Regions from separate parts of the Homo sapiens genome. Here all the other regions are linked to region 2. Evidence: fine-mapped expression QTL. A gene starts in region 2. Each other region holds a variant in brackets. All regions are shown on one strand. Distances are between the middles of the regions.

Region 1 (10,903 bases), 41 kb before region 2:
TGCTAGACATACATCAAAATTTCTACATTTTAACACCCTCTTTCCTGGAGCCAAGACCACTCAAGCTCTTTCTGACTTTTTAAAAAACATATCTTTCTTAGTAGGGAATATTGAAGTAACTACTGACTAGATAATTAACCAAGAGCACTGTTCCTTTGCTGTGTATGTATCTGCACTTGTTAGCCTACCAAAAAATTTAACTGTTACTTTCAGAGGTTCACTTGCAATGGGCAGCTGACATTTTAGGGAATAAAATATCATTGCTATCCTTATACAAGACCAATCATTAAATTAGTAATACTGTCATCTCTCAATCTTTGTTGTTAAAGATGACTGCACTAACATAGATGTATAGTTTTTGCCTTTGATTATGGCTGTGAGAAAGGCACAGAAGTTTTCATTTCAAGGGAGCAATAAGAGAAATGCATGGAATCTTAATTTCTCAATGTGCTCAATAGCAGAGGAGGACATCTGGCTGTACGCAGGCCAACATGCAATCAAATTAACATTATGAGAGTGCCACTGGTGAGTCCCATTTTCTTCCCAACATAGACTATGTTTTAATTCTTTGTAGTTTAAAATATGATCATTTTGTTTAGATTATCTGCTAGGAATTTCACCTCCAAAGGGCATTAATGTCATAATAGCTTTGAAAAGTGACTCTATCTTCTATTTCTTTCAAAAAAAACTAGGTAGGTTTGGTCTAGGAAAGCAGAGAAGTTGTCATGCTGTGGCTTACAGTGTTCTCTGGCTCTGTTTGTCCAGAGGGGCCACAGCTCACCCATCTTTAAGGAGGTAGGGGACAAGATGATCCCTTCAACAGAGGAGTGAGGCTTTTAGTCTCCATTAGTCTTTGTGGTATCTTACAATGTTTCTGGCACGTACTATCTCTGCATGGGACTGGACAACTGTTTTTGAGTCTAGTCTCTCATGAGCAAAAGTAATAGCTAGTCAGAAGTATAATCAATATTAAAAATACATTTATACAATCATCAAAAAAGTTAGCGTGTTTTTTCTAAATAATGATGGTATAGGTCCATGATTTAGACTTTTAAGTATTTTATATATATATATATATATATGATATCATATTAATTTACAAAATGACTACCAATATTTTAGCAAATATTGGAACTATAATGCAGCTCTACATGTGTGTGCCTGTGTGTGTGTGTATGTGTAGTGTAGTGTACACATTCTAGAAAACAAGCAGGTTATTCAGCAAACGAATATGTTTGATGACTCTCCTGGTAGTTTTGTTATTGGTCAAGACACAAATCTATAGTTTGCATGTCATATGCTATTCAGTAATCCTCATCATTCATTATTTGAATAAAAAATCATTTGTTTCCTTTATTGCAATATCCAAACCATTGAAAACTGGCACAAGACAGGGATGCCCTCTCTCATCACTCCTATTCAACATAGTGTTGGAAGTTCTGACCAGGGCAATCAGGTAGGAGAAGGAAATAAAGGGCATTCAATTAGGAAAAGGGGAAGTCAAACTGTCCCTGTTTGCAGATGACATGATTGTATATCTAGAAAACCCCATCGTCTCAGCCCAAAATCTCCTTAAGCTGATAGGCAACTTCAGCAAAGTCTCAGGATACAAAATCAATGTGCAAAAATCGCAAGCATTCTTATACACGAATAACAGACAAACAGAGAGCCAAATCATGAGTGAACTCCCATTCACAATTGCTTCAAAGAGAATAAAATACCTAGGAATCCAACTTACAAGGGACGTGAAGGACCTCTTCAAGGAGAACTACAAACCACTGCTCAATGAAATAAAAGAGGATACAAACAAATGGAAGAACACTCCACGCTCATGGGTAGGAAGAATCAATATCGTGAAAATGGCCATACTGCCCAAGGTAATTTATAGATTCAATGCCATCCCCATCAAGCTACCAATGACTTTCTTCACAGAATTGGAAAAAATTACTTTAAAGTTCATATGGAACCAAAAAAGAGCCCGCATCGCCAAGTCAATCCTAAGACAAAAGAACAAAGCTGGAGGCATCACGCTACCTGACTTCAAACTATACTACAAGGCTACAGTAACCAAAACAGCATGGTACTGCTACCAAAACAGATATATAGACCAATGGAACAGAACAGAGCCCTCAGAAATAATGCCGCATATCTACAACTATCAGATCTTTGACAAACCTGAGAAAAACAAACAATGGGGAAAGGATTCCCTATTTAATAAATGGTGCTGGGAAAACTGGCTAGCCATACGTAGAAAGCCAAAACTGGGTCCCTTCCTTACACCTTATATAAAAATTAATTCAAGATGGATTAAAGACTTACATGTTAGACCTAAAACCATAAAAACCCTAGAAGAAAACCTAGGCAATACCATTCAGGACATAGGCATGGGCAAGGACTTCATGTCTAAAACATCAAAAGCAATGGCAACAGAAGCTACAATTGGCAAATGGGATCTAATTAAACTAAAGAGCTTCTGCACAGCAAAAGAAACCACCATCAGAGTGAACAGGCAACCTAAGAGTGGGAGAAAATTTTTGCAACCTACTCATCTGACAGAGGGCTAATATCCAGAATCTACAGTGAACTCAAACAAATTTACAAGAAAAAAACAAACAACCCCATCAAAAAGTGGGTGAAGGATATGAACAGACACTTCTCAAAAGAAGACATTTATGCAGCCAAAAAACACATGAAAAAATGCTCATCATCACTGGCCATCAGAGAAATGCAAATCAAAACCACAATGAGATACCATCTCACACCAGTTAGAATGGCAATCATTAAAAAGTCAGGAAACAACAGGTGCTGGAGAGGATGTGGAGAAACAGGAACACTTTTACACTGTTGGTGGGACTGTAAACTAGTTCAACCATCGTGGAAGTCAGTGTGGCGATTCCTCAGGGATCTAGAACTAGAAGTACCATTTGACCCAGCCATCCCATTACTGGATATACCCAAAGGATTGTAAATCATGCTGCTGTAAAGACACATGCACACATATGTTTATTGCGGCACTATTCACAATAGCAAAGACTTGGAACCAACCCAAATGTCCAACAATGATAGACTGGATTAAGAAAATGTGGCACATATACACCATGGAATACTATGCAGCCATAAAAAACGATGAGTTCATGTCCTTTGTAGGGACATGGATGAAGCTGGAAACCATCATTCTCAGCAAACTATCACAAGGACAAAAAACCAAATACTGCATGTTCTCACTCATAGGTAGGAACTGAACAATGAGAACACATGGACACAGGAAGGGGAACATCACACACTGGGGACTGTTGTGGGGTGGGGGGATGGGGGAGGGATAGCACTGGGAGATATACCTAATGCTAAATGACGAGTTAATGGGTGCAGCACACCAACATGGCACATGTATACATATGTAACAAACTTGCACATTATGCACATGTACCCTAAAACTTGAAGTATAATAATAATAATAATAAAAAATAAAAATTAAAACAATGAAGAGTATACAAGGCAATTTATTTTCCTCCCAGACTAGGCTCCAAGTCCCCTGCTCAGGCAACAAACACTCACAATAGCTTCTTGTATATTCTGTCAGAATTTTTTTATGCAGTTATGATTAGAAGTGTATAATATTGTTTGTTCATTTTAATCATTAATAATTTATTTAACACTTTGAAAATGTTTTATTTTTACTGTTACTATGATAGAAAAGTTAGATTATTGCCACAGAAAATGATCCCAATGAACTCAGTCAAGTTTTGCTTTCACAAATTATTGTTGGTTGTTGTTCCAGGATACAAAATGAACATTGAGGTTTCAGGTATAGGGAAAAAGGGAGAGTAAAATTATATCAAATTAATTTTGATAGATATGTTCTTGATGCATCAACGCAAAAAAAATCAAGTCTTACTTTATGAAATTTTACTTTAGGAAAGTTGAAACCAAGGTGAACACTCCATCTTAAGAGTGAATTTTTCTATATGTAAAAAAAATTAAGAAAAATCAATCAGTCACCATATGACTCAATATTTCCCAGAAAAAAGAAGTGAGTACTACCAAAACTATTTTTGGAATTCGGCAGTTAATTCCAACAAAAAACTTTAAGTATAGATGTGGTCGTGTGTAGAAACAGTCTTCTCTGCTGGACATGAGGTAAGTTTATAATCATTTCCGCCAAGATGTTTTCTCAAATATCCATATCGCCTGTTAGAAAACACCAAATCAACATTGTAGGATAATGAGAAAAACAAGGAAATGCAGGCATGGATTCAGAGTTGAAGAGGCAAGATATTCTCCAAGTGAAATCATGGGAGGTACATGGGAAAGTTGAGAGCAATAAAGTTTTCTTTCTTCCATTGTCATGCCCAAACAAAATTAGAAAATCAGTAGCCTCTTCAGCGTTCAACTTAACGTCCAACAAGTGACAACTTCACCCTTTGATATTCTCTCTCAGCTATTCCCAATCCTCCACTATCCTGGAGAACAATCAATTGTTCTCTGTTTTAACATCTTACCTAATCCTGTCCAATTTAAGAATAATAAACTGTACCGAAAGAATGTAAGCGATTTATATGCCAGATACTTCAGATTATGTTTTAAGCTGGAAATACTTTTGAAAAGGCTGACAGACAAGTTGCTAACTTTTTCATGTTGATAGTGCTATAGTACTCATTAACGTTAAACATTTCAAGCACTGGGCCTGGCGCGGTGGCTCATGCCTGTAATCCCAGC[G/A]CTTTGGGAGGCCGAGGCAGGCGGATCACCAGGTCAGGAAATTGAGACCATGGTGGCCAACATGGTGAAACCCCGTCTCTACCAAAATACAAAAAAATTAGCCGGGCGTGGGTCGGGCGCCTGTAGTCCCAGCTGCTCAGGAGGCTGAGGTAGGAGAATCACTTGAACCAGGCAGGCGGGCATTGCAGTGAGCCGAGATCACGCCACTGCACTCCATCCTGGCAACAGAACAACACTCCGTCTCAAAAAAAAATAAATAAAAAAAATTTAAAAATAAAAATAAAAAACTCAAGAACTGAATCCACCAGTAGAAGAAAGCAGCTTTATAATGTTTCTTAAATAATAGCTGTGGTATGAATCTCTTTTAAGTTTTAACCCATTAAGCATGTCAAGAACTAGGGCTCTTGAAAATGTCATATAGAATGTATTCATATTTGGAAAGAAGAACAAACATAAGAAAATTTTTGACTTATTAAGTATTATTAATAACAATGGGAAAATATAAGTATAAATGTTAAAATATTTAGAGAAGTGGAGCAGAATGAAAATATCAAGTAAGTTTAAGACTGGGGTGCAATAAAGAAGAAAATATACTTATGTTGGTGGTTACAACTGAGGAAAGATCATGTTATGTTACATTCAGCATTGTCTTTTATTTGTCCGATGTTTCAGGATAAGCATTTCAGATCACAGAAATCAACTTTTTTACGGGATTGACTGTCAGGTTAAACAGAGTGAATGTGGACAATAGAAAGACAAAGAGTAAAATGAAGGAAGAGGAAAATTTGTTAAGCTGAGAAAGATTTTAAATTACTAAAAAAACTGGGAGCTGGATTGGCGAAAAGAGAGAGCCAAGGAAAATGAAATAACAGGATATAATGAGACAAGAAAGTGTTATAAGGAAGAGAAAGCATGACATTCTACCAAAAAAAATCATAATATAACAAAAACCCACAGGCAGATTTACAGTTTTACTCCCCAAAAATCTTAATATCTGCATAGTTTAAGCAATCAATCAATCAATATATGTCAATAACATCTAAATTGTCAAATGTCAGTAGAAGTATTGCGTTCTCATGTTTTCCTATTCTGGGCTAACAAGGTAATTGCATAAAGCTTGTGTCTGGAATAAACCGAATACATGAAAATGCATTTCAATTAGAGTCTACTTCTACTTGTACTGCAGTTACCTGATTTAAAAGAAACAATTTTAGTACATCTACTTGTCACACTCTTTCTTGTTCATTTAAATGATAGTTGATAAATTTCACTCTGAATATATTTGCTGTTTGGCATTAAAGCTATTAAACTAAAAAATCAAAAAAGTTATTTTAACATTGTGTGCCCTCACAAAACATATGGAATATGTAATTAGGACTTGTAATATACCAAGGAAATATAGCAACTAAAACAACTGTTTTTGATGGCTATATTATAGTTGATAATTTTCCTTCTAAATTATATACTTAAGAAACTGTGTTAAAGGTCAATAGTAGTAGTAACAGTTAATTTAGAAGTGACAGTTTAGGACACACGTTCAATATATAACAACTGCAATAAACATTTATTGAATCCTTTGTCCTAAAGCAGCATGGCTGTTAAATTACTTCTCATAATGGTAGGTCTTAGTTTAAATAAATAAATAAATAAAAACCCACATCTGTTCATGCTTAAACTAAAAATAATGAGTACATTGTTTAGTGATAAGGCCTCTGGAAAATAGCTCAGGAAGCTTCATTTATTTTCCTGAAACAAAACATGAAAGTAAATTGTCTCCTATATAAAGAATTTTATAAATTTAAATTTAGAGGATTAGAGAAGAGGAAGCAATTAGGTTTAATAAATAGTTCTCATGTTTTAAAAAATATTTCCAACTAGAGATATCACAATTTATTTGCCAAAGAATGGAGCAAAAGTACAGATGCACGTTTTTTACTACTAGTAACTATAAGAAATAACAAATTTTAAAATGTGAATAGGCCCATGAGAATCCTATCATTCCTGATAGACCCAGTCTGGTAGTCAGTGAACATACAGTTATGGCTAAGTTTCATGCTTAGGAAGGCATACTTAGGTTAAGTCTAGACACCTAAAATAGCCAGACTTCAGTTCAGTAATTATTTGGTCTGTGCCATAAACAAAACTTACATATTAAAAATTAGGACAAAAAAATGAAGAATAAGATCCTTAACAATATTAGGGAGTTCATAAACAAGTAAGATATTGAAAAAGAAATTTAAGAGACTCTCATAGCCTTACTGAACTTTTTTCATTTCTGGGCCATGCCAAGCTGCTTTAGATTCCAGAGTCATCAGCTCTTGCATCTGACAGAAAGACTTTTCTCTCACTTTATCAGGCAATACCTCCTCTTCTTGCTTTTAGGTTCCCATTTCAATGGCACTCCATTGGGTGTGGCTTCACTTACCCTTCAATAAGTTAGATCCTAGAAATAGATGCCGTTCTGTCCCTGTTTGCTTTTCCTGAATAGCACTCATCTCGATTTCAATACATTGTAATTATCTGTGTAATTTATTTTGTCAAGGCAAGAACCAAGGCTATGTTATATATGCTGTAAGTCCACACATGGTAGGTTCTCTAAAAAAAAAAAAATCTATATGGACTGAATAGTTTATCAGTCAGGATTTCTATAGTCCTTATTTCACTTAAACGTATGAGGTGGCATGAGCCTTTACTTTAGAAGGAAATAAGTTCTACAGAGTATTTTTTCATAGTCTCACAGTTATTAGATGGCACAACTTATATTCTAATATAAACCTCATCTCCCTCCACCATGTTGACTTAAGATACTACTGACTTGATAATTATGTAATAAATATTTTCATAAATGTTTCCTAATGTTCTGCTCAGCATTTTTTACAAATTGCTTCATTTTTTCTTTATGAGTAACATCAATTTAACTAAACTTAGAACCTCCCTACTCTTAGAAATGCAATAATGCCCTTAAGAAGCAATTTTAGTGTCTGGTTGAACTTACTTATTTACATTTATTCTATATATTTATACCAGTAAAAAACTAGTCGTGGAAGTTTTGTCTGTATGAACACCATGTAAAACATTATTTATTATACAGGCTAATTCTTGTCACCATAGCATACATTGTTATCCATCATAGTCTAATATTAGCCTTTAATGATTGCCATTGCAGAAAGGAATAATTATTAATAAGGATACTAAATGATAAGGACACTCAATTTTTATGGTGAAGTGCTGATTTGTTTCAGAAGGAAATTTTTGGATTTAGCGTTTTCAATTGCAATCCAACATTCCTTTGGGGGGGAAATGATGACGTTTTCAAACATGTAAAAATTTTCACATTTACATTATATTGATGCTAAGAAAACTAGTAATCCTAACTTTAACTGCAAATATAATAGATCTCCTAACCAGAATAATAAAACAATTGTACTAAAATGGGTGAAAATTATCAGCATTCCAGAGCATGAAGTGAAAATTACTTGAGGAAGTGAAAATTACTTGAGAATCTGAAATTAAAATACCTTGAACTGTTATTGTGGAAAACATGCCTTGACAATACATAATATATTGCACAGATCAACTAATTTTTTCAGCATTATTCTTAAGTATGAGCCAATGGTCATCAACTGTAAGCTATGAGACATGTCACAATTAAGAACTTCATTTGCAAATATAGAGAAAACCCCTTAGCAATAACCTCAATTATTCCATAGAGGTTTTGTTTGGTTTTTTAAATTTTTTTTGAATAGGCAATTCCAGCACAATTCCAGTTCAGAGAAGGACTGAAGAAGGACAGTCAGGGAAGGCTTCCCACAGGAAGCCTTGACCGGAGAAGGGTCAAGGGCCCCCCAGTGAGAGTCCCTTGCCTCTCCAAGAACTTGCCTCTCTGACAAGCTACATTTTTTTCCGTAGAGCATTACAAACTAAAAGAATCTGTGACTGATCACACCATATTCATATAAGAAGGAAGAAAGACACAAAAATACAAAGTGACATTTAGGGAGATCTATCTTGTGCTCACTCACAAAGCTTCCTTACTGTTTTTGTCCCCAGCTCTCCAAATTCAATATCTTTCCTAGCCTAGATGAAATAGTTACTTGAGTGCAGTTAATGCCCATTCTATATTTAAAAGCTCCAGGCTATGATTTTACTAACTTTTTGTACAACCAGAAGAAAATAAAAAAGATATTTGCTCTTGAAACAGTAGAGAAATGTAGAATAACTGTTGAAATAATAATTTGAAGAAAACTAAATAGAACTATAAAAGTTGGAGGCAGCATACAGGAATGAAAGGCATTCATCCACACACCATGTTGAGTTATTTTCTCAAGCTTGGAAAAGAAAACAGCAATAAGCATGGAAAATGCAGCAAATCGGGTATTCTAACCTATTTGCCAAGGCTTTCAAGGGAACAACACAGAGGGAGTGTTTAAAACACAGCAACCAAGCCACATACGGCCAGATCTCAGCAACGTACCTTTTAAGAGGGCAAAAAATAAAGAGGAAAAAAATATTGAGTGGGAAAAGTAAATACTCAAAAGACTGCTTTTACCTACATATCTACAAATATCATCGAAGTGGAGTCAAATGCTTGGCATTTCTGTTCATACTTGACTCCACTCCAATGTAGTACATTAAGAGAATGCAGAACAACAGGCACGGTGGTGATTGTGTATAATGGCAGGGCATTTGTGGCAGCCAAGCCTAGTTGTTGAGTGCTCTGGGCCATTCACTTAGCGTATAGAGATGCAGTCTGTGAAAATGACTGTGAGGCTCATCAGCTTAAAAAGAACACACAGAATTTAGACAGAGTTCAGGGTAGAATGACAACAATAATGGAGACCTCTAAGGAAACATTAAATAGAGTCATTAGCCTGAAGAAATCTGAGAAGCTGAATATTTATTGATCTTTAAACAAATTATGGCTTACCCCTCAAAGGAAAGTAGTGCATACTTTTTATTCCACTGGGCATCACAAAAAGGAAATGAATTTAAATTGCACTGTGAGATATTTAAGTCAGACATAAAGAGATATTTCCAGGTAGCGAGAGAGTGTGGTTTAAAAAATTAACTTTCTCCGGAGGTCATTAAATATATGCCATCTTAATTGGGTTAAGCCTAATGTCTCTAATTTTCTATCACGTGTTTTCTTCACTGCTGTTATGTTACTATCCCTGTTATTTTGGCATTATAACAGATTATATTTTTATTAGGATGGGACATATTTCTTTGACTGGCTTTCACTCTCTCCTTTTAAAATGTGTATAACATACAAGGAATACAACCAAAATGACTTGTGCCAGCCCAATGTATTTTTCTTTGTTCTTTTGTGTAAAGATATTTTAGAGAATATGCTTACTCCACGTTGATTTTTCACTTTTAGAAAAGGTTAGGACAGTTTGTTTGCTCCTAGAAAGACTAAAATCTGGGAGAAAATACAACAATATCCCAAATACTCATTAAACCAGTTTTATATACAGTTTAAAAGCATTCCTCAAGCCCCTGAAGTGAGTGGGATTTGCTCATTGTGCTGTGCTCTCTTCCAAGATGGGAGTGACTATTCCCAGTAAGCTAAATCATCAAGCTATCTGGGAAGAGTTGAAGGGGAAAAAAATAAGTAATAATTTTTATATTTAAGAAAGTTAAGCTCCATTTGCCCAAACTTTGTCCTACTCACATTAGTACTGGGTGCAATCTGATCATTCAGAGAGGAAACAGAAAATCTTAGACTATTGAAACAACCCAGTGATATCTGTCCCCCAAGTACTTACTCTGACATTCTAAATCAATTTCTCCCCTTTATTTAATTAATCCTCATGTAAGTTTCTAGAAGGAAAAATTAAAATATAAAATGAGAGTCAAATTATTGGTCCCACTTGATTTAAATCTTCAGAACTGACACATTTGTCAAGTAGGCAGTTGTAAAAAAGATTAGTTTCTGAAATTATAAACAAATACCTACAGACGAACTCTCCAATATGATAGCCAGTAGCCACATGTGGCCTTTTAAGTATAAAATAATTAAAATTAAAAATCTAGTTACTTAGTCTACTAGCCACATTTTAAGCATTCAATTGTCACATGGGGCTAGTGGCTACCAAATTGGATAGCACAGATATAGGACATTTTATCATCACTTGAATTTCTATTGGACTGTGCTGACCTAGATAATTTATGACATATGAAATTT
Region 2 (10,903 bases):
TATTCTTTAATTATCCAGGTGATTGTGATGTGAAATCATGACTGAGCCCCACTGCTCTAAGATGAAATAAACTTTCCTCAGCACTGAAATCACAAACTTAAACTACCAAAATTAATTAAGGGCATGGGAATCAATAAGGCATAGGGAAGCTTTTACATTATAAAATTATTTCTTTAAATCACAGCTCATTGTTTATATGTTATTTGCCATTGTAGAAAAGGGTGAAAAAATAGCAAATTTAATTACTCTCAGTTTGAAAAATTATCCAGAAATGAAGATGACGACTCTGAAACATTGTCAATATCATTTGACCTATAAATAATGTTCTAATACATTTACTACACACTGATAGATACTTTTTCATATGAATATTATACATTAAAACTAAGGCAATAATGATTTAGAACATTCTATCTATATCTATGTATCTTAAGTAGGCTAGAAATTAAGATATGAGTTATTAAGTATGAGATGTTAAGGTGTGGGGTTAGAAATTATACTGTACTTCATTATCAATAATCAACATATACTTCAATATCACATACATTTAACTTTAATTTGTACATCTTTAACTATTTTTAATTATGTGTATAAATATAAGTACACACATCTTTATGTATTTATTTATTCATACCTCCATTCACTTATTTATATAGGGGATCCCCCCAAATCCACTACCATTAAACCATACATTTTTATTTTAATCTTTAGAACAAGCCCAGGAGGCAGGTATTGTTATTACTCACATTTTACAAATGAGGAAATTGTCTACAGTCACAAAGTTACTGTGTCAGACATATTAGAAGCTTAATACATATTTGGTGAACATATGCATAAAAACAGAGAGACAGACATGTACAACAGCTCATCTTTACACTGAGTAAAAGCTTTTAACCTGTCTCAGAAACCTCTCTGTGAAAACTGAGCAAAAATCGAGGTATCCTTTCATTTGTCATATAGGTATAGGTGGTACCTTACTTCTCCAACAAGGATGAATATTGAAATGTGGATCCCAAGGCCCAACTCCAGATTTTCTGAATCCCTGATAGTGGGACTTGGAATTTGTCTATTGTTTCAAAGTTTCTCAAGGAATTCATATGATCAACCAGGTTCAGAAATCACTGGATCTTATTGCCGAAGTTTGAGAATTAAAGTTTGGGCCTTACTGCGGCTCCACAGAAAGGGCAAATGAAGTATCATGGACAGAACTGATACGTTCCCAGTTAGTTTCCCCTCTCAGAAGCTAACAGGCAGCAATACAGCAGAAATTAGTGACTTATGTCTTGTGCTCTGAAGTCAGGCAGAATTTCACAGAGTCCCAGCAGTGTCACTGACGAGATTTGTTTCTTGGGGCAAGTTGCCTGATGCTTTCAAAGCCATATTCCTTTTATATAAAATGAGATAATATTCTTTGTCTCATAGGGGTGTTTTAAAGATTAAATAAAAATAACATGTTCTATCCTACATGGCACAATGCCTGACACCTAAGAAGCAAAGGATACATCTTACCTTTATTGAAGCAATCAGAAAGTATGAAATCATGAAGGAGATAAGAGTTCTGATTGGCAGTGTATCTTATTTTCCCAGGTTCATTTATTTATCTTAAACTATTCTTGTTGGAGAATAACTCCCAAGCCCCCTACTTAAGCTGTGAGTAATCTCACACTTTATAATGATGTTCTTTCCATGAGAAAAAAAAATGTTCTTAAGTTTTCTGGAGAAAATATATCTGCACTATTTCTACTGAAAAATCTAACAACTGGACTCTGCTCCTCTGCATCAATTCTAGAGTGTATATGCCACAAATAAAGTGTTCTAGCTCAAGAAGATTGAAAGTAAATATGGTATAGTATTTTAAAATAAGAATTTTGCAAATACATGGTATGATTGTGTCATATTACTAGCAATCATATGATACGCAATGCAAAGTACAGTTCATAGACTTAAATTTAATTCTAATAAGTAAACTGATTTTGCCTTGCTGGGGAAAAGTTAAAGCACTAATCCAATTGCTAATGCAGTCTTGTCTACTTCTTTGGTACCTAGTGACAAGTCTAAATAATGTATATATTTTTATTTACATATTCAGTAATACAATTCTCTGCTCAATGAGTGATGTTCTTCTGCCACTTGGTGGTGCTTGCCAGTTTCAGAATTTGTTTCTTGGTGGCACTATAACACTAAGTACAGAGTAAGTGCAACAAAATTGCAGCATTCCCATTGAAAAGGCTTTGCTTCAAACTGTTTAATAATTTAAAGGACCTCTGTGGAAGCAACCGCATTTGTTAACCAGTTACAACCAGTAATTAACTCCTTTGGAGTTTTAACTTACTTTTGGCAAAACGTCTTAGGAAGAGCATATATTATTAGAAAGTATGCCAAAAATTTACTTAGCAGAAAATTCAAAAACAGTTTTCCTCTGCTAAGAGGTTCTCTAAAATTCTACTTACATAGCCAAACTCTGAAATCCTAGCAGGTCCTGTTTCATTATCATAATTACTGCATAAACACTTTTAAGGACTTTGCCTTTAGTTTCAAGCATGACTTATTTTCATAAGCCTGATTAGTTACCACACCAGCCTTGCTATGGAAAATGACATGTTCTCATTCTCTGCTGTAGAGTTGTTAAATCTTGATCTATATTTATGTTGCCTTCTCTGCTGAAAGCCTGTAGCGAAAGAAATTTCTAATTCCTTGTTTTGCAATATTAGTTGGCAGCTCTATCTAATGGGTATTCTGTTTCCTTAAAGAATTTAGCTGCTCTGTCTAGAAGCCGATTTTCTGATGCCTCCAACGTCTGGTCTAATTGATCTGTTTTAATGGAGTCTTCGTCGGTGAGGAGCGAGATGCCACCGACTAGAATGCTGGGATCTGCTGCTTAATTGCCAGGAGTGAGAGACACTGAGATTCAGAAATCTTTGGAGGTGGGAGGGGAGAGGGACAGTCTCGGACGGAGGCGGAGATGTAAGATAAAGGGATGGATTTCACACAGGAAAAAAAAAAAGATTTCGTTGAGGCACTGAGGTGCTGCACGATCACATCTCTCAAAGGAGAAGTTAAAAAGCAAGGAAGTGGGAGGAGGTTGGAGGTTAAAGTACTTAAAAGGATTACTCGGGTACAATTTGTTTTTCTGCTGGTGTCTGCAAAGGATAGATAGTCCCGTTTTCAAAGTATATGAATGCCTCTTTTAAGTGATTGGGAATGGACACTAATTGCCTGTTAAATGTTATCAAATGCTCTCCTAAATTCAGGGGACACAGAAAGAGGGGCACAAAAGGAGAATTTAAATAGAAAAAGGGAGGATCCGGAGGCTTTTGAAAGCGGGGGGAGAAGAAGGAGGAGGGATAACAGAGAGGAATAGAGAAGGAGAGCGGAGAGAAGATAAACAAAAACAAAAACAGGAATCACTGAATAATCACACACCAAAAAGAAAGCTCTTCCCTATGGGGCATCCAAAACACTGAGACTGCAATAGTGACCCCGGTCATGGAAGAAAGATGTTCCTCTCCACCCTTGTCCCCGAAAGCTCTTGGTCCCGTTACTGGCGACTAAAATTCCATTAGGCTAAAGAGTGTGTCTAACTGCCTGAAGAATGCAGCAGACGGAAGGCGGGTCCCGCTATGCCGTTTGCCCTTCCCGCTGGAGAGAATGAAAGAAACGCGCAGAGCCAGAGACTCCTGCCGAGTTAGACCTTCTCTCGTCGCCCCAGGTCACCGGCCATCCGGCAAAGACCCGAGTAAGGAACGCAGGGTCACTGCCTGGGCCAACAAATGGAGCCCGCTCTCCCCTTCCCGGACGCCGCTGCCCGGCCGATGCTCCCGGCAACCCACCCGCGGCGTATGCAGAGGAGCCTTTCTCTTTCTCTCAGACCACTTGTCCCGACCAATCTGACCTTCCAAACACATCTGACCGCACCTCCCAGGTGGACACACTAATAGGCTACGGGCTGGAGAGGAGCGGGTGATGAGGAGAGGGATTCAAACCTGCGAACGCTTGGGCTGGGTCGGAGCTGCGGGGGGCCTGGGAGGAGAGAGGGGAGAAGAGAGAAGGAAGGAGAGCGCCTGCCGGGATGGCTGAGCTGCCTCGGCGAGCAGCCTTGGGGTTGCACGCTCTTGTGGGAGATGCTGCTGTTGCTTCCAGGTCGGCAAGAGCGGTTCTAACACCATCGCCTCTCACCCTCTTTCCTGTAAATCCCTAGAGAAACGTCCCTGGCCTCTCCGCCGCGACATTCCCAGCCTGCATCCCCCTACAGCCTAGGCGGCGCGCTCCCGCACGCTGGAGCGCCGGTCGCCAGCAGGACGCCCTCTCCCGCGCCGACTCGCCCCTCTCTGCCCTGCTGCTGCTGCTCCTCTGACACCTCCGCCCCCACCATCTCCAGCTCGGAGAGACGCCACCCAGCCGCGGCCCGCACTCGCGGCCCGGGGTCACGCGCGGAAGAGGGGCGCTAGTCCGGACCCCGCCTTCGGTAGGGGGCGTCCTGGAGCGGAGAGTGAGGCGAATGGTATATGAGTGTGCGGGTAGCCCACCCTGAAGCCCGAGCTTCTCATTTGAGCCATCCCCGCCTAGCCCCACTCGGGCCAGCGCCTGGCGAGCGAGCCCATCTGTGGCTTCCGCGGCCGCCTCCTCCTTGCATCCTTGCACCTCCTCGTCGACCCCTCCCTCCCGGGACCTGCATCCTGCTCCACCAATCAGAGCCCGACTGCCTCTTCCCACGTGACCCCGGGCGGGCTGAGGACCTGCTGCTTCCCAAACGCCAGAGGGATGCGGGCGGCAGAGCTCGAGAGGCGGCTGCCGGGCTGCGGGGCGCCTTGACTCTCCCTCCACCCTGCCTCCTCGGGCTCCACTCGTCTGCCCCTGGACTCCCGTCTCCTCCTGTCCTCCGGCTTCCCAGAGCTCCCTCCTTATGGCAGCAGCTTCCCGCGTCTCCGGCGCAGCTTCTCAGCGGACGACCCTCTCGCTCCGGGGCTGAGCCCAGTCCCTGGATGTTGCTGAAACTCTCGAGATCATGCGCGGGTTTGGCTGCTGCTTCCCCGCCGGGTGCCACTGCCACCGCCGCCGCCTCTGCTGCCGCCGTCCGCGGGATGCTCAGTAGCCCGCTGCCCGGCCCCCGCGATCCTGTGTTCCTCGGAAGCCGTTTGCTGCTGCAGAGTTGCACGAACTAGTCATGGTGCTGTGGGAGTCCCCGCGGCAGTGCAGCAGCTGGACACTTTGCGAGGGCTTTTGCTGGCTGCTGCTGCTGCCCGTCATGCTACTCATCGTAGCCCGCCCGGTGAAGCTCGCTGCTTTCCCTACCTCCTTAAGTGACTGCCAAACGCCCACCGGCTGGAATTGCTCTGGTAAGTCCAGAACCCCCGTCCCCGACCCTTTAACTCCGCAGAAGAACACGCGTATCCAGCACAGACCAGCCTACCCTAGCGCGCCTCCTCAGCCCCTCACCTCCTACTGCCCTAGACCCCTAATACCACCCACCTCTATCCAGAGAAACAAGGGGAACTGTTGCAGGCCCGGGGGTGAGGGGTGGTTCTGGGATGGGCAGAAAGTGCAGGTGTAGCAGGAAACCTTTGCATGCTTGCGCTTACATTGGAGCTGCGAGGATTTTGAGAAATATTAAACGGGATGGTTTTCTGGGTTCACTGTTTTGAAAGAGCACCAATCCTAGGGGAAACACTGAAACAGAAGCTTTGTCATCATTAAAGAAAAAAGTCTTACTAGGATGAGGAAGAAATAACTTTATGAGAAAGAATGAGCGAGAAAGCAATAAATCAAATGGTGACTGCAGGGGAATCGCTGATTCCTGGCAAAGGTGCCATGAGGTCGCACTGGTCTCCCGTTGAAGACCAGGTCACACAGATTCTAGAGGAGCTGGGTTTCAATAGAATTTCTCTCTCTCTCTCTCTCTCTCTCTCTCTCTCTCTCTCTCTCTCTCTATCTATCTATCTCTCTCTCTCTCTCATTCCCTTCTCTCCTAGGCGGCAAAAGACATTGGTTTTGCAGTCCAGATATGCCCCTCTCTTTGCTTCCCTAAGCTTCAAGGTAGTACAGGGGAGTTGAGAAAAAGAACACTTTGCGGGTCTCCCAGGCCGGAGTGGGCATGACTGAGGCTGGTCAGGCTCCATGTAGGCGAGCCGAGGGCGGAACCGACTTCAGTGGGCGCTGACTCCTCCATTTCTGGACAGGCTTCTGTGGAGTGGGTCAGGCACTCTTCTTGCTCGCTCGGGTTCCTTCAGATTCTGACGGCGAACGCTTGGCAGGCTTCGCTCTGCTGAAGCTTCCTAATTAAATAGGGCCAGAGGATGGGAGTTGCTGCACTCCTAGCTGGCATAGCATTTCGGTTTGACAGCCTGTAGTATACTGGGCAGAATTGTGGTGTAATTTCCTTGGCATTTTAAACTCCGTTAACATGCCTGGGTATTGTCCCCTAGGTGTGGTCTGTTCTAGTTTTAGCAAGTGTGTATGTAATTTTTCATCTTCTGTGAATATAATTTTGCTGTAGTTAAATCTGGCTCTGAATAAAGTGTCTTTCAAAGATGTATATAAGCTGAAGTGTATGTAACTTTAGAGAGGAGGGAATGACCAACTGTAACTCAGGGTGAAAGCCTGTATAGTTCCTAGTTATTACTGATGTAAATGCCAAAAGGAAAATTATTATGCATCATTCTAATTTATCCTTTACAAAGACAAGTTGAGATATGCAACCCTATTAGATTTGGGTCAATAGATTGTTCTCTTTTTTGGCAGTTTCTAAATTTGGCATTTTAATAAAACTCAACATGTTTCTATAACTTCTTGATTCATGCGTACATGTGTGTTGTTTTTGAAAGAATAAGTTTCACTTTGCTATTGCCTAATCACTTTTTAGATGCTTTATTATGGTAATAATTATGAGCCTGCAAAAACAATTTTTGGAAATGTTGATGGCTTTGTAGTCCAACACAGACTGGTTTGCTTCATTCCTAGCCCTTGCATTGTTTTAGGAAATAACTAACTTAAATGTGAAGTTGACATTTGCAATCAAGAAATTACATATTTACCAGATATTTTAAAGGGGACTGCATAAACTAAAGAGAATAAACTGGTTTTGCAGATAGGTTGTCAAGAACTTGGCACCCCGCTTCCACCCCTGTTAACTTAGAGGTGATCAATCTTCATTTGAGCCAAACAGACCATCACAGAAAACACTGTGCCTGTTTATCTTTATTATTGAGGCTTTGTTTCCTCTTTGTCTGGATACATTTCAAATAAGGGGTTGTTTCAGTCGTTGAAGCAAAAGAACAATTAAAGATGGGGAAATGGTAAAAGGGTATTCAGAGATCATCACTAGCTCTTTTCCAAAATGTGGAGTTTTGTGGTCATAAATATTGTCCACCTAATGAGCAAAAAATAAAAATAAAAAAAAAACAGGAAGCAAATGTTAAGCTTTCATTCACCACTGTCAGTATTAACGCAAGCTTTAAAAAATAGCACTATCAGAAAAGGATACTAAAGGAGAATTGACTAGAAAAGAATTGTGGAAAATGGAAACGAATATTGATCACTTAACTAGATTTTGAGGTTATCAGTAGACAGTGACCTTGCAGTACAGCTATAGTTGTTGGATTTAAAATTTAGGACAAGTATTTTAAAGCTTCAAAGTAGTGCTTTTTTTTGTTAAAAATCTGTAAGATGTTTTAATGACTGGAGTGTTCTCTTTGAATTTGAGGTTATGATGACAGAGAAAATGATCTCTTCCTCTGTGACACCAACACCTGTAAATTTGATGGGGAATGTTTAAGAATTGGAGACACTGTGACTTGCGTCTGTCAGTTCAAGGTAAGAAGTCTTATATTTGCATCTTCTAATTCATTAATGAGACTGCAAAGCAGGAATCTTCCTTTACAGCCTATCACTTGGAAATTTATAGCTATGCAAGCTAAGAGGGAAGCTGGCACCAAGCAAAAGTACTAGCAAGAGAGCCAACTGATGTCAAGAAGACATACGCTTTTTGGAGAAATGTATATGCCAAAGTTATAAATGCTGCTGGAGGTAGAAAGCTTCAGGTTGTGCTTTTGGGATGTCAAAGGAAAATTATGTTTCTCTGACCCTTCTAGCATCACTTTAAAAGTGAATTGACTGGGGATAATAGTCAAAATAGGGGGTAAGAAGTGTGGACTTATTCTTTTGTTCTTTTTGATTGGGGCTATCATCTTTTTATCTTATTGCTATCTGTTTTAATGGTCTTGGCCTTTATTATCCTTGCAACCTGACTAGGTTTTTAAGGTAACTCCTTATTAGTGTAACCTCAACACTTTGTTCTAATTTGGAAATCATGGAACTTATTAATTAGTGTATATCAGCTTTTTCATAGATACCACACTCAATTAGAACTGAATCCCCTAGGAATCCAGAAGAGCATTTAGATCCACAAGTCATTTTATGAACATCAGGAAATGTACTTTTTCTTGTGTTAATTTCTTTTAACTAACAAAGAGAGAAAGAAGTTGCACTACTGGCATGATCAAAACTGGGTTATTAGTATCTATTAAAGATAGAACTTTTAGTGTCATTAGTATAGTCATTAGCTAACAAATGCTTTCCACCATGTAAGTTATAAAACTTTTCCTCTCAAAGTGTTCATATAATCATGCAGAACTTCAAGTAGCATGGATGTTGTACTAATAGCCTATATTTGCCCTTGAGTATTTTAAGTTACTTTTAAAAATACTTTTAAAATCTGACAATATGACTCAACCAGGAAATATGCACATAAACAAAACTGTATGTGAGATAATGAAAACTTTTCTAAGATTGTAAGAATAAAAATGATATAGAACAAATAAAAACAATAAACTCAAATTTAGACCTAGATATCTGGTTAATAAGTAATATTTAGAATTATTGATGAAATTTAAATATTTTAGATGGAATTCAACCTCCCACTAAGAAAGAGAAGAGAATTCACATTTAAATAAAGTTTAAGTGGCTTTTAGAAATGCTAAAACCTTCTTAGACATTATTTTATTCTTTCTAAGAAACATAATAAGACAACTGATATTTGTAAAGTGCACCACCTCCTGGTGGGTAAGTAGTGCTCTGACTGTACAGTTTTTTAGACCATACCATAGTGTCAGAAACATATTCTTGCATATTTAATATGCATGTAACGTCAACTTCTAAGGTCTGCAGCCACATTAAACAGTGCCATTATGTACTTCCAATGAACTACATGAGAGAGATAGAGTATGAGAACTCCCCAATTCATACTTACCCAAATGTTAACTAAACAGGAAAAAAGCACAGTTGGATAAATCATTAATTAAAGTCCCAGAGAATTTTGTGAATTTTTTCCTTCTTTCCCTTTGTGATTTCCATAAATTTGTCTTATTTTCATAACCATGGGTAGACAAAAGCAATGAACTCATAAAAAGTATCAAATGAACCAGGAAAAACATTCCTGAAATGTAAAGCCATGGTTCTAAGATTTCACCAGGAGAAAAAAAAAAGGGGTTGACAGAACTCTAAAGGGATGAATGCTACGAAATGAAAATAAATAATTTTCTTATTAAAGGAATTGTTTTCATTTTATAGGTGCCACAGAAGATTTTGGTAAAACTTTTATCAACAAAAATATTTGTGTTTTTCATACATTGGCCAGTCATGTTTGTCATTAATTTAAATAATCGTTAAGTGGAATAGATGGGGGAGTGGAAACGAATGCAAGTCTGTGTAAGAAACTAAAATGTAAATTGTTTTTTTGTAATCCTTGTGGCATTTTAAATGTACTAGTGTACTACTACTGCTATTAGTTTGTGCTTTGCAATAGTTGTCAATCTGGCAAGAAAAAATAAACATCTCCCTAGTGGAAAATGTAGACTTTGCACATACCAAGAATATAGAGTGGCTGAATTAAGTTGAAAATCAAAGAAAAGTATAAGTTGCATGAAGAATAATAAATAGGATATTTTAAGCTAAGAGTCTCTTGAGTCCATCTTTTCCCAATACATGAATTTGAGTTTTTGGTGTTTGTTATTTTAGCCCTAGTATCTGATAAAAAGGGAGAGGTATTGAAAATCTATTTTCCTATATATTATCCTAAACTTCTGTTTCTTTCTCTGCTGCCTTTTCAGGTACAAGCGTGCATTCCTTTTTTTTTTTTTGGAATTTTTGGAGACAAGGGTCTTGCTCTGCCACCCAGGCTGGATAGTGGTGATGCCCTCTTGGCTCACTGCAACCTCCACCTCCTGGGTCCCAGCAATTCTTGTGCCTCAGCCTCCCGAGTAGCTGGGAATACAGGTGCACTCCATCATTCTCAGCTAATTTTTTTGAATTTTAGTAGACACACGGTTTCACCACGTTACCCAGGCTGGTCTCAAACTCCTGCCCTCAGGAGATCCACCCGCCTCGGTCTCCCAAAGTGCTAGGATTACAGGTGTGAGCCACCACACCCAGCCTGCAATCTATAGTCTTTCTAGCTGAGAGATAAATTTCAAAGAGAAATGGGCATATATTTTTATACCTATAATGTTTTCAATTTGCCTTATCACTGGAACACTAAAGTAAACATTATTAGCCTTCACCTCTCTTAGACGATTTTAAATAAACTGATTTCTGTCCTTCAAACATATTATCTCATTTATTTCTCACAACCCGGTGAGATAATTGTTTTCTCCCCCCTTTTTTAAACTTTTATTTTAGGTTTTGGGGTACATGTGAAGGTTTATTACATATGTAAACATGTGTCACGGGGGTTTGTCGTACATATCATTTCATCACCCAGGTATTAAGCCCAGTAATTATGAGGATGAAAATTTGGAGACAGTAGATGGACAGATAGATAGATAGATAGATAGATAGATAGATAGATAGATAGATAGATAGATAGATAGAAAAGCGGGGAGGAAGGAAGGGAGGGAGGCAGAGAGGGAGG
Region 3 (10,903 bases), 52 kb before region 2:
TTCTTTTTTGCAAGAGAGCTAGAAGCCTTTAATACCCCAGTGTGTACTGTGAATTTTTAAAAGGGGGGATATAATATGTAGCATTTATCCAGAATATTGAATTAAAGAAACATTTTTAAAGGCGATTTTTAAAGAAGTATTCTACAGATCATACATTGAAAAATGCTGCTCAAATCAGAATTGGTAATAGATATCAAATTGATATGATTGCATTAAGTGGATTTTTTTTATTTGGCAGGAAAACTGCCAAATAAGAGCAAAATGTCCTAAGGGCAAGTAAACATATGGACTAGGAAATCAAAAAAGTTCTGTATAACCAGCCTGCAAATGCTTCAGCATGAGCTATACTTTTAGTAATAATTGGCCTCCAGATTATTCTGGAAATATGCGATTGACAGGAAATCGAAATCAACACATGCCCTACCAAACACCTTTTAAAACTGCTGCTTTTCCCAAGCACTAATACTTTCTTCTATCTCTCCAGAGCCAATGGTAATCTTTACCAATATCCAGTCTGCTAGTGGCTGGGAAAAAGTCCAGCAGAGCCATGGGTGAGCACTTCCCCACTCAAAGCAAGTGATCACATTGATTAGTAGCTGCTCTGTAGGAGCTGGGAGACAGATGCCTTGTTCTAATTACAGTTTTAGCACCTTCCACTCCACATTTCCCTGCTGCAGAGGGTGCTGTGAAGTCTCTGCAGATGCTTATCAGCTAAACTCCATTTTGAATACAAAGTGGCATTACTACCTCACAAGAACTCAAAGTACAGGCTAAATTCACAAGATGCATTCCCAGACTTCATCTCTGTAATACCAAGGAGAATATTTATTTGTCCCTTATTGACACAGGGAAGTTGAGACAACTGTATAGGCCTCTAATAACTTCACTTATCTGATACTGCATCAGGGAAAGAGCAAGGAATACTACATGTGCAGCTCATTCCTGGCATCTGCACTCAGTGATCATGAGAAACGGGAGGGCCCAATGAAAGAGACTGGGGCATTTTGGCCAGGGGAGTAGAGAGACCCTCCACAGCTCCTCAGCCTCTTTCACTGATTTCTTTCACCTTTTATGAATGCTGGTATATTTTCTACATGTGTATTTTCTGTATCAATAACCCTTTCCCTCTAAATGCTCTTCAGTGGGACTCTAAACCACTTTCTGTGGCTTCAGCCATCAACTCTAATTGGACAGGTAACAAAATTGTCCCTACACCCCTGACTTCTCTCATAAATACAGTCATATTTTCGTCTTCCTGATGGACATTTTCATATAGGTATTCAACTAGTGGCTCAAATCAATACATCAAAAAGAGAGAACACTTTGATCGCCACTTCCCCAAGCCCAAATTTCTTTAAAAAAATGTCATGTATTTCACATTTTGTATTGGGATAAGGATTTAAAAATAGACCATATATTTAACAAATATTTTTGGGAGTGTATTATGGACAAGAAACTGTCCTATGGGTTAGGATACAGCAGTGACCAACACAGAAAAACAATTCCAGCCCTCCTGGAGTTTATATTCTATTGAATTGTTACAGAAAATAAATACACCAAACACACAAGGTCAAAATGTAATGAAATTATGGGGAAAACCTAAACAGATGAAAAGACTCTGAGGTACACAAATGTTTGATGTGTTTTTCAGATATCAGAGAAGCCAAATGGTACTAAAGCAGAATGATCTAGGAGGAAAAGATTTAGTTCAAAGAGATAGTGGGCCCAGAAAGTGAGATACAATTGTTCTCAATCCAAGCTGCACTTGATAGTTACTGATATGGTTTGGCTGTGTCCCTACCTAAAACTCAACTTGAATTATATCTCCCAGAATTCCCACATGTTGTGGGAGGGACCCAGGGGGAGGTAATTGTATCCTGGGTGCTGGTCTTTCCCGTGCTAGTCTCGTGATAGCGAATAAGTCTCACGAGATCTGATGGGCTTATCAAGGATTTCCACTTTTGCTTCTTTCTCATTTTCTCTTGCTGCCGCCGTGTGAGAAGTACTTTTTCCTCCTGCCATGATTCTGAGGCCTCCCCAGCCATGTGGAACTGTAAGTCAAATTAAAACTCTTTTTCTTCCCAGTCTCAGATATGTCTTTATCAGCACCATGAAAACAGACTAATACAGTTACCTAACAAAACATTTTAAAAATATCATTGTCCAGATCCCATACAAGAATTGCTAAATTAAAATCTCTGAGTAAGAGACCCTGATATTGGTGTCTTTCAAAAGCTGCCCAGGTGATTTTAATTTGCTTATGTCAAGAAGCACTGAAATTGGGAACTTGCTGGCTATTACAATGACCTAGTCTTCTATCTGAGTAAGAGGCAATGTTTTTATCAAAGAAGTAGCATGATCCTATTTATGTTTTAAAAGGATAGCTCTATCTGATGTGTGGAAAATAAATTGTAAGTGGGGGGTGACAAGGGCATAAGGATCAAGTCAACTTTTGGACTCTAGTAACAACTCAAGTGGGAGAGGTAGTGGCGTGGGGAAGGGTGGTAGCAATGGATGTGGTGGGAAATAGTCAGATCCTGAATATATTTGGAAGGTAGAGGGAACACGGTTTGCTACTGCATCAAATGTATGTGGCAAGAAGAACTGAATGATAGCCCCAAAGTTTTGGCCTAAGAAGGATGGACTTGCCATACCTGAGGTCAGGAAAAAACATGGGAGAAAGCTTAGAAGAAAAGGCTTGGAGTGGCTTTTGAACTTGTTAAGTCTCTTATGTCTTTAATAGACACAGAACAAACAAAAGACATCCAAGACTGTGAAGTAGACAAATAGCTAGAACTCTGAAATTCAGGGAAGATGTTTAGACTGGAGATAGAATTTGGGGAGTCATCAACAAATAGATGGCTTTAAAGCCAAAAGATTGTATGAAAGCCCCTAAGAAGTGAGCAAAATGAGAAAGAAAAGATGTCCAAGGTCTGGCTACCATTGAAACTTTAGGGAAATAACTGAGCAATAAAGGAAGGAAGGGGATCAGCAGAGTATATGGCATTTCAAAGAAATAAACTTCATCTAATGTTGTGAAGTCAAGTAACATAAGGACTGACGATTGCCTATTGGATTTAGTATTATAGATACTATTGGTGGACTTGACAGGAGTAGTTTTAACGGAACCATGTGGGCAAAAAGGAATATTAGTGTAAGCTGAAGAGTAAACCCAAGGAGAGGACTTTGAAACAACTTTTTGAAGAATTGTGCAATAAAAAGAAACAGAGAAATGTGCTTGGAACTGAAGGGAAAGTGGGGCTTCAAGAAAGTGTGTGTAGGCCAGGCACGGTGGCTCACACCTGTAATCCCAGCACTTTGGGAGGCCAAGTCAGGTGGATCACCTGAGGTCAGCAGTTCAAGACCAGCCTGACCGACGTTGTGAACCCCCCGTCTCTACTAAAAATACAAAACTTAGCCAGGCATGGTAGTGCGTACCTATAATCCCAGCTACTTGAGAGGCTGAATGACGAACCTGGGAGGCAGAGGTTGCAGTGAGCCAAGATCCCGCCATTGCACTCCAGCATGGGCAATAGAGTGAGACTCTGTCTCAAAAAAATAAAAACAAACAAACAAAAAATCAAGAAAGTGTGTGATACTATTATTATCGGAGAGATTAAGGCATGTCATATGATAACACAAGAATCAATTAGAAAAAAATACTAGAAATATACCCTTAAGTAGATGAAAGGGAATTATGTATGATGCACAAGAGGCTGAATTTTGCTAAGATCACCAACTTTTTTTCTCCCAGAAACAAGAAGGAAGGCAGAGATAAGAGAGGGTGAGAAGATGTTGTGGTGGGATTATATGGAAAATTGTTTATGCGTATCACTCAATTTTGGAGTGTTTCTAAATTTTCTTCTCCCATGATATAGCTGTTAGATGGATAAATTTCTTGCTTTACAAAATGGCTTTTTAATTATCCTAGGTTAGATTGATACATTTTAAAAAATTGTGACATCTCGCATTTTTCAGCGTTAAAGTAACTTATCTCTCCCTCAACTTTCTAAGCCATCCATATGTCCCAGAATTTGGTGAGCTGCTAAACAATTATCCTTCAAAAATAGTTGATACATTGTGGGAAATAACATCCTGTTTTAGTTTACTATAAGAAAATCATGAGTCAAATGTAATGAATTTCCCTCCCAACCTAAGAGCCCTCATAACATTCTGTCCCTCAGCTTCCAACTTTCCAAAAGAGCTTTCATCAGCTGATTCCAACCGACTTTAATTCAATTTCAAGTAAATAAAGGATTAAAGAAAAGAATCATGCCTCCCTCTAACATGTGTGAAACTGATTATATAATCTACAAAGGATCTACTAAAATTATACAGATTGTACTATCCTTCATATAGAACATTTCATTAGTTTATAGAAAAGTGAGACTTATTGAACTATTGGCTATGTGTAATATATCCACAAAGACTGACTTTTCCAATTACAGAAACTTTTTCCATGTAAAGGCCAAAAATAAGATTTGGATTAGCTGCTTTTTATACCATAAAATGACTTTTAGCAAATCCTGAAATTAACGTTTTGCGTATCATTTTATTGTCAAATTTTTTAATACTTACATAGGATCCTGTTATTCTTATACTGTCTGATATTATGGGATTATATTGATGAAGTCCAGATAAGGATCTGGCTTCCACAATTTTCAGCAACCCCATAGAGGCTGGAATATAACGTATAGTAGGGGCACAGTAAACTTAATGAGGTGAATGTAGTTGAAATTTTAGTTGAAAAAAGCAGTGTAAGTAAGATGTTAACTGATTAAAGTCATTAGAATATAAACTCCATGTGGGTAAGAACTTTGAATTTCTCTAACAACTCTATTTCTAATACCTGGCCCATAGTTTAATGTGTATCTGTTGAGTGCATGTTGAAGAATCAATGTACAGATAATTTCTCTGTTTACATGTATTAGAACATGGTCTTTAGCTATGACATATGACTATATGCCAAACGTTGAAAAAAATTATTATTAATTTTGGAAGCCATGTTTCCTTATTTCTCTCTTCTTTATGTAGTTGGTATGGTTGGCTGCCTATCTTCAAGCCCAATACGCCAGACCTCCTAAGAATTTTCTGAGCTGCCCAGTTTTTTTTTTTTTTTATGTTTAGCAAATGCCTTTTTCCACTTAAATATTTCAGAGACAATTTTTTGTTGTTGAAAACTAAGAATCCTGGCAGAGAGAGGATCCCTGTGCTCCTTGGAGCCCAGAAGAGATTTAATCCCCGGGACATAGTCTAGATGTAACAGCTGGGTCCTCTGCCTTTTCTTCATTGGAAATTTCTTCTCTTGGGGTAGAGGAAAGGATTCCCGGAGGGAATTGGAATGAATCATGAATCTGCTGTTAATAACACTTTGTACTTTCCTTGCAAATTTTGTTCCCACCAGAGCTCAAAATGTTTTGTAATCCAGCATTTTGTTCTGTGGCTGTTATTTCCAAGGATATTATATTTGAGGATAATATGCGTTTCTAGAAAAATTGCCAAAGAATTGTTGC[A/G]TGTGAATAGAAACTGAAGCAAACTTTGCCTCTGACCCATGCTAAAATAACACTCTTGTCAGCTTGACTATATTAATAACCATGAAGGTGATATTTTAATACTACCTGTATTCCTTACAGGAGAAAAAGCTCTAGAATTAGTCCTCCAGTTATTTCAACTACTCAGACCTTTCGATGAGGATGCAAGACAGGTCTTGAAAGATGTTGTTTTGACACCCTTGACTGTTGTAGTAATCATTTCAATCTTTATTTCTTTCAAAGAATGTAACATCACAACATGAAATAAAATGACTATCTCTTTTATACCTCTCTATTTATTAAAAAAGCAAATAACTTTTGACTAAAATGAATTTTAACCAAATCAGATAAACCTGAGCTCCAGGATTTGATCTATTTAGACAGCTAAATGAGAAAATTCTTGGCCTTCTTTTCCCCATCATGGTTTCCAAATTGTTGTCTTTAATTTGTATGTGTAATTAAGCATTGTGTTTAGAAGTAACTAACAAATTATAGATCAAATTATTTCTGCAATGATCAGTCTCCAAGATGATCCTCAATGGCCTCTACATCCTGGTATTCAGACTCCCATACTGTACGAGGGATAATTTGTGTGACTAATAACACGCTATATGTAATGATGTTCAGGGATTAGGTTATAAAATTGCAACCATCTTGGGCTCACTCCATCTCTTACATTGTGAGAAGCCCGTGTAGTGAGGAACTGCAACCTCTGGCCAACAGGCAGCACAGAACTCAGAAACTGAGGCCTGCCAACAACAACATGAGTGAGCTTAAAAACAAATTCTCTAGCCCCAGTTAAGCCTTGAGATGACTGTAGTCCTGATTAACAGCTTGACTGCAACCTTGTGTGCTAGAATTACCCATTAAAGCTGCTCCTGGATTCCAGACTCTCCAAAATTGTGTGAGATATTGTAGAGTTTTTGTCTTCTTGCTGAATTATGCATCAATTTGACACACAGCAATAGACAGCTAATACTATTTCTACAGTGCCAATCTGATAGAAAAAAAATTTTGTGAAAAATTTTCTAGATATATATTCAGTTTGCATATGGTACATCAAAATCAAGATGCAGAATTAGTGATCATCCACGATTAGTGCCTCTACCCTGAATTTCACTTAAAATTCATGTTTAGCTATTAATATATGAACAAAAATAAAATGAAAGAAAATTAAGGGCAACTTTGGACACTATTTAAACAAAGTTTCTCATGAATTTATATTGGCTACCTTAAAAATCTTTTGGTTTTAAATTACTATCAAAATTATTTTAGCTTTCTTGTATAGTCTATGGTTATAAGCAAAGACACTGAATATAAAGGTGATTTCTCAGGACAAAATGACAGATTTTATGTTAAAACCTTAAAAGTCTTCAATTCTTTTGATTCATTATGAGACACATTAAGTGCCACCATCAGGCAGATATTGTTCTAGGGACAGAGAGTAAGACAGCAGTAAGCAAAACAAAATACAAATGTCTCTGCCCTTAAGGAGTTTATATTTCAGTAATCTCTCAAAGCATTTAAGATAGTTGGGCAACTAATTCTTTAGCCAATGTCAGGAAGATCTTACTCTGTGTGGCATCATGCTCTTTCATAAGAAAAAATATATATTTATATTGTGTTGAAGTTTGTCTTCCTGTGAATGACACGCAATAGTTTTAGCTTTTCCCTCTAAGTGACACTAAGCATTTTAACCTTTATTTTATGACTGACTTTTAAAATATCTAAAAATTAGCTATTATATTTTCTTGTGGTAGTCCCATTACCCCCAATTTTTTTAAACAGGCTAGAACTTCAGCAATTTTGTGTGCATTTTAAAAAATCTAAATATATTCAGTGTAAAGTACAGTCATTTCTTTAGGCTAAATGAATTGTATGTTTGAACATTTTTGCTTTATGATAAACTCTATCATAACATTACATTATTTAGTTGTTCCCCTTGTATACATTGATATAGCATGAGCCATACATATAGTATCTGTTTTTAAATGTTTCATTGTTGGAAAATGAAATTTTCAAATTATCTGCATTTTAATATACTGCATGCCTCCAAAGGAGACTGTCATGGTTTTTTTCTGGTGGACATAAGGTGACAGTGCAGCTCTCATGATGCCATCTTGTGATAAGGCTGCTTGGAAATATAGTACAGATGACCCAATGGTGTCAGAGGGACCTATTTCACCGTTTGTGAACCTACAGAATCAGTAAAAAGCTGTTCATCTCTATGTCTTGTCAGATGAATGTAATGCACCTTGAGGATAGAAAAAGACATTCCATCTATACAGTAAAAAATGAAGGCTAGTGTGGGAGGTGAATAAAATTCCAGGAAGAAAAAGAACACTTGTATTTAAAAAATATTTTTCATTTTGAGTGGAATACCTGTTTTCGGTGGCTGAATTTTTGACAACATAGTAAAACCCTGAGTATTTAGAAGATGTCAGGACAAAAGATAAGTGATCAATTTTCTTCACAATGCAAGTTACCTCTGAGTGTATCATCTTGGAGCTTTCCATTGTCTGTCAGTGACTAACACCATATCCAACTGTAGCTTTGTGTTTTCTCCAAATTTGAGAAGACACTATATGACTCATTGACAGACAATGGCAAACTCTCTTCAAGAAAGCAGGGGGCAGAAGAAACGAACATCTGGGAACTAAGCTGCAAAGAACTAATTTAAGAGTTAAGATGCTGCTGTCCACCTCCATCTGTGCATCTCTTCTCCTGAAAAAGGTTTATGTGTTCTTCTTTAGATAGAGAAAAAAATGTATTTTGTACAATGGAAATAACAACTTTAGACTGCTGGAGCAGCATGCTCAACCATGTAGCACAGGGTTAATATTTCTCCAGATCACAAGAAAAGTTGAAATACATTGATTTGTTATTGTTGCTTTTAATTCAAGTAATTCGTATTATTTTTTCTAAGTATAGGGATAAAACAGAAGACTGGCAGAGAACCACAGTTTAACAACCACTTAGTCATATTAATATACTATTCTATAATATAATCAAATTTGAATTTTATGTCTTAAATATATAAACTTATTTTATGCAGTTATCTTTATGTTGTGCTTATATCTTAGTATTTATCTTTAAAAATATATTTTTCACCTGATCTCAATCAAAACCAACAAATAATGTGGTATCTTTCCCCTTTATTTCAGACTGATACACATTTCTGAGAGTTCTTTTTTTTACATCTAGTTTCAGAAGGCATGATATAAACACTTTTCACTCTGTAAGATTTTTACAGAAGTCCCTTTTTTTCTTAAGCACTAAACACTAGTTATTTTTTCTATTTAACAATGAACGTTAATAGAGTCAAAAATGCAGTGCCATTCATCGGTAAACAAATTGTTCAAATTTTTGAAACTTTCAGTTTTACTACACTAGGTAGTCAAGAATATCCAATGAATATCTATATTTCATATAATATCATGCTTATTTGCTCTTTCTCAATGATTTCCATTTGCAATTAAGCACAAAGAGTATATGAAATTTCCAACATGCTGTGTCTCTGGAACAAATTACTTCAAGAAAAATTTTTATTATAATGATTTTCTATAAAGAGACCCTTTTGCTACTATTGTTATTTTTGAGTGTGTGTTTGTGCGTGTATGACCTTTTTTTATAAAATACTCTGCAACCACAAAATCTTAATGTTTTGCTAGTGTTCTTGGAAGACTCCAAGTCCATCTTCATATCAATATAGACAATTCCTCTTAGCATCCCTGAGAAGCTAACATCTACTTCCTGCGTAAGTACCTCCATTTGCTACACTTAAAAAAATAAGATCAATTTGGCATCAACTATGTTCCAGATACTCTCTGATATGGTTTGGCTGTGTCCTCACCCAAATCTCACCTTGAATTGTAATAATCCCCAAGTGTCAAGGGCGGCACCAGGTGGAGATTATGGAATCATGGGGGCAGGTCTTTCCCATGTCATTCTCGGGGTAGTGAATAAGTCTCATGAGATCTGATAGTTTTATAAAGGGGAGTTCCCCTGCACACACTCTCTTGCCTGACACCGTGTAAGATGTAACTTTTATCCTCATTTACCTTCAGCCATGATTGTGAGGCCTCTCCAGCCATGAAGAACTGTGAATCAATTAAACCTCTTTCCTTCATAAATTACCCAGTCTCAGGTATGTCTTTAATAGCAGCATGAGAATGGACTAATACACTGTATTAATGCTGCAATTAGCAAAATGAATACTGGGTGTGTTGGTTGCCAGAAGCACTCTATCTCCTTAGAGAGATGAACCAACAAGCAAATAACTAGACAATAGTATGTTACGTGTCACAATGGAATAAAGTCTCCAGAAGGTAGAGAGAGACTATCTCTTTGAAAAGTTAGAAAAGACCACATAAAAGAAAGAATATTTGAGCGACATTTCAAACAATTTTTGCTGGGTAATTGAAAAATAAAGGAGAAAGTGTAGTCCAAATAAGCATAAGAGAAATAGCACATGTTTAGATGTGTGAGTGTGCATGATAATCTAAATAAGTCAAATTTCTAGAACTTACATGTAAGAAGTGTGGAGTGATTGGAAGGATGAAAAATAACACCTGAAATATATTTCTTAAGGATGGTGAAGGCCTGCAGTATGTCTTAGAGTTTTGATGTTATCCTCTAGGTGAAAGATAATAACTGAAGTTTGGCAAAGGGAAAAGGATGTGCTCATTTTATATTTTAGGAAGTTCTGTGTGACACCAGAATAAAGGATGAACATTAAGGTTGGGAAACTTAAAGCATGGATATCAGTAAGCAGGCTATTATACTAGTCCAAATGCAAAATCAATGGAGACTTAAACCAGGAGTGGGACAATAGAGGGAAACATTAAAAAAATCAAAGAAATAAAAGCAGCTGTTAGAACAATATACTTTATTAAAAGTCAAAAATTGCCTTCCTATAAATTTAATCATTCTGTACTAGTTTTGACCTCTGCTCTGACATTTCTACATATATTAAGTTTAATTAAAAATATATATACACATAAATACATACATGTGTGCATATGTAATTTATATATGTCATTTAATTTATATATGTCATTTAATTTATATATGTAATTTCAGAATCATATTCTAAATCCATAATTTTTCAGATTAGACATATTTATATTTAAAAATTACTTACAACATCACTTTCCCCTTATCTTCTTGATGGCTCTCCTCCAGATATGCTCTAGTGTCTCAAGGTTCCTCTGAAAAATCACGTACTCAAATTTTTATGTTTTTATTGATTCGTATTCTCTATAGCTATATTCTGTGTTGCATATTTTCATTTCCTATAGTAAGAAAATTATACCTCCTTTGCGTATTTTAAATATACTCACAATGCTAACTTGTCTATTTTCTCTCATCTT

Alleles and levels. Positions count from the first base shown, and alleles are read on the strand shown. Sizes are in standard deviations (SD) of each study's normalised expression.
For the expression in esophagus mucosa of the gene that starts at base 4,756 in region 2, allele G in region 1 goes with a higher level than allele A (small effect, 0.32 SD a copy in GTEx).
In carriers of allele A in region 3, the expression in subcutaneous fat of the gene that starts at base 4,756 in region 2 tends to be higher than with G alone (moderate effect, 0.61 SD a copy in GTEx).

Evidence for each region. PIP is the estimated chance that this variant, and not a neighbour inherited with it, causes the effect.
Region 1: its variant is the best candidate, but not a certain one, in a credible set for the expression of TMEFF2 in esophagus mucosa (GTEx, PIP 0.84).
Region 3: its variant is the best candidate, but not a certain one, in a credible set for the expression of TMEFF2 in subcutaneous fat (GTEx, PIP 0.65).

What each region holds. Positions count from the first base shown.
Region 1 is chr2:192,229,543-192,240,445 of GRCh38, reverse strand. No RefSeq gene overlaps it. Among named protein-coding and RNA genes, the nearest start is that of TMEFF2, 40 kb to the right of the region's middle. The variant G/A (reference allele first, on the strand shown) is at 4,717.
Region 2 is chr2:192,188,786-192,199,688 of GRCh38, reverse strand. TMEFF2 (transmembrane protein with EGF like and two follistatin like domains 2) reads left to right here and starts at 4,756. Exons shown (of 10, transcript NM_016192.4): 1 at 4,756-5,336; 2 at 7,700-7,809. The coding sequence starts at 5,165. RefSeq lists an enhancer at 4,235-4,810.
Region 3 is chr2:192,240,900-192,251,802 of GRCh38, reverse strand. No RefSeq gene overlaps it. Among named protein-coding and RNA genes, the nearest start is that of TMEFF2, 51 kb to the right of the region's middle. The variant A/G (reference allele first, on the strand shown) is at 5,514.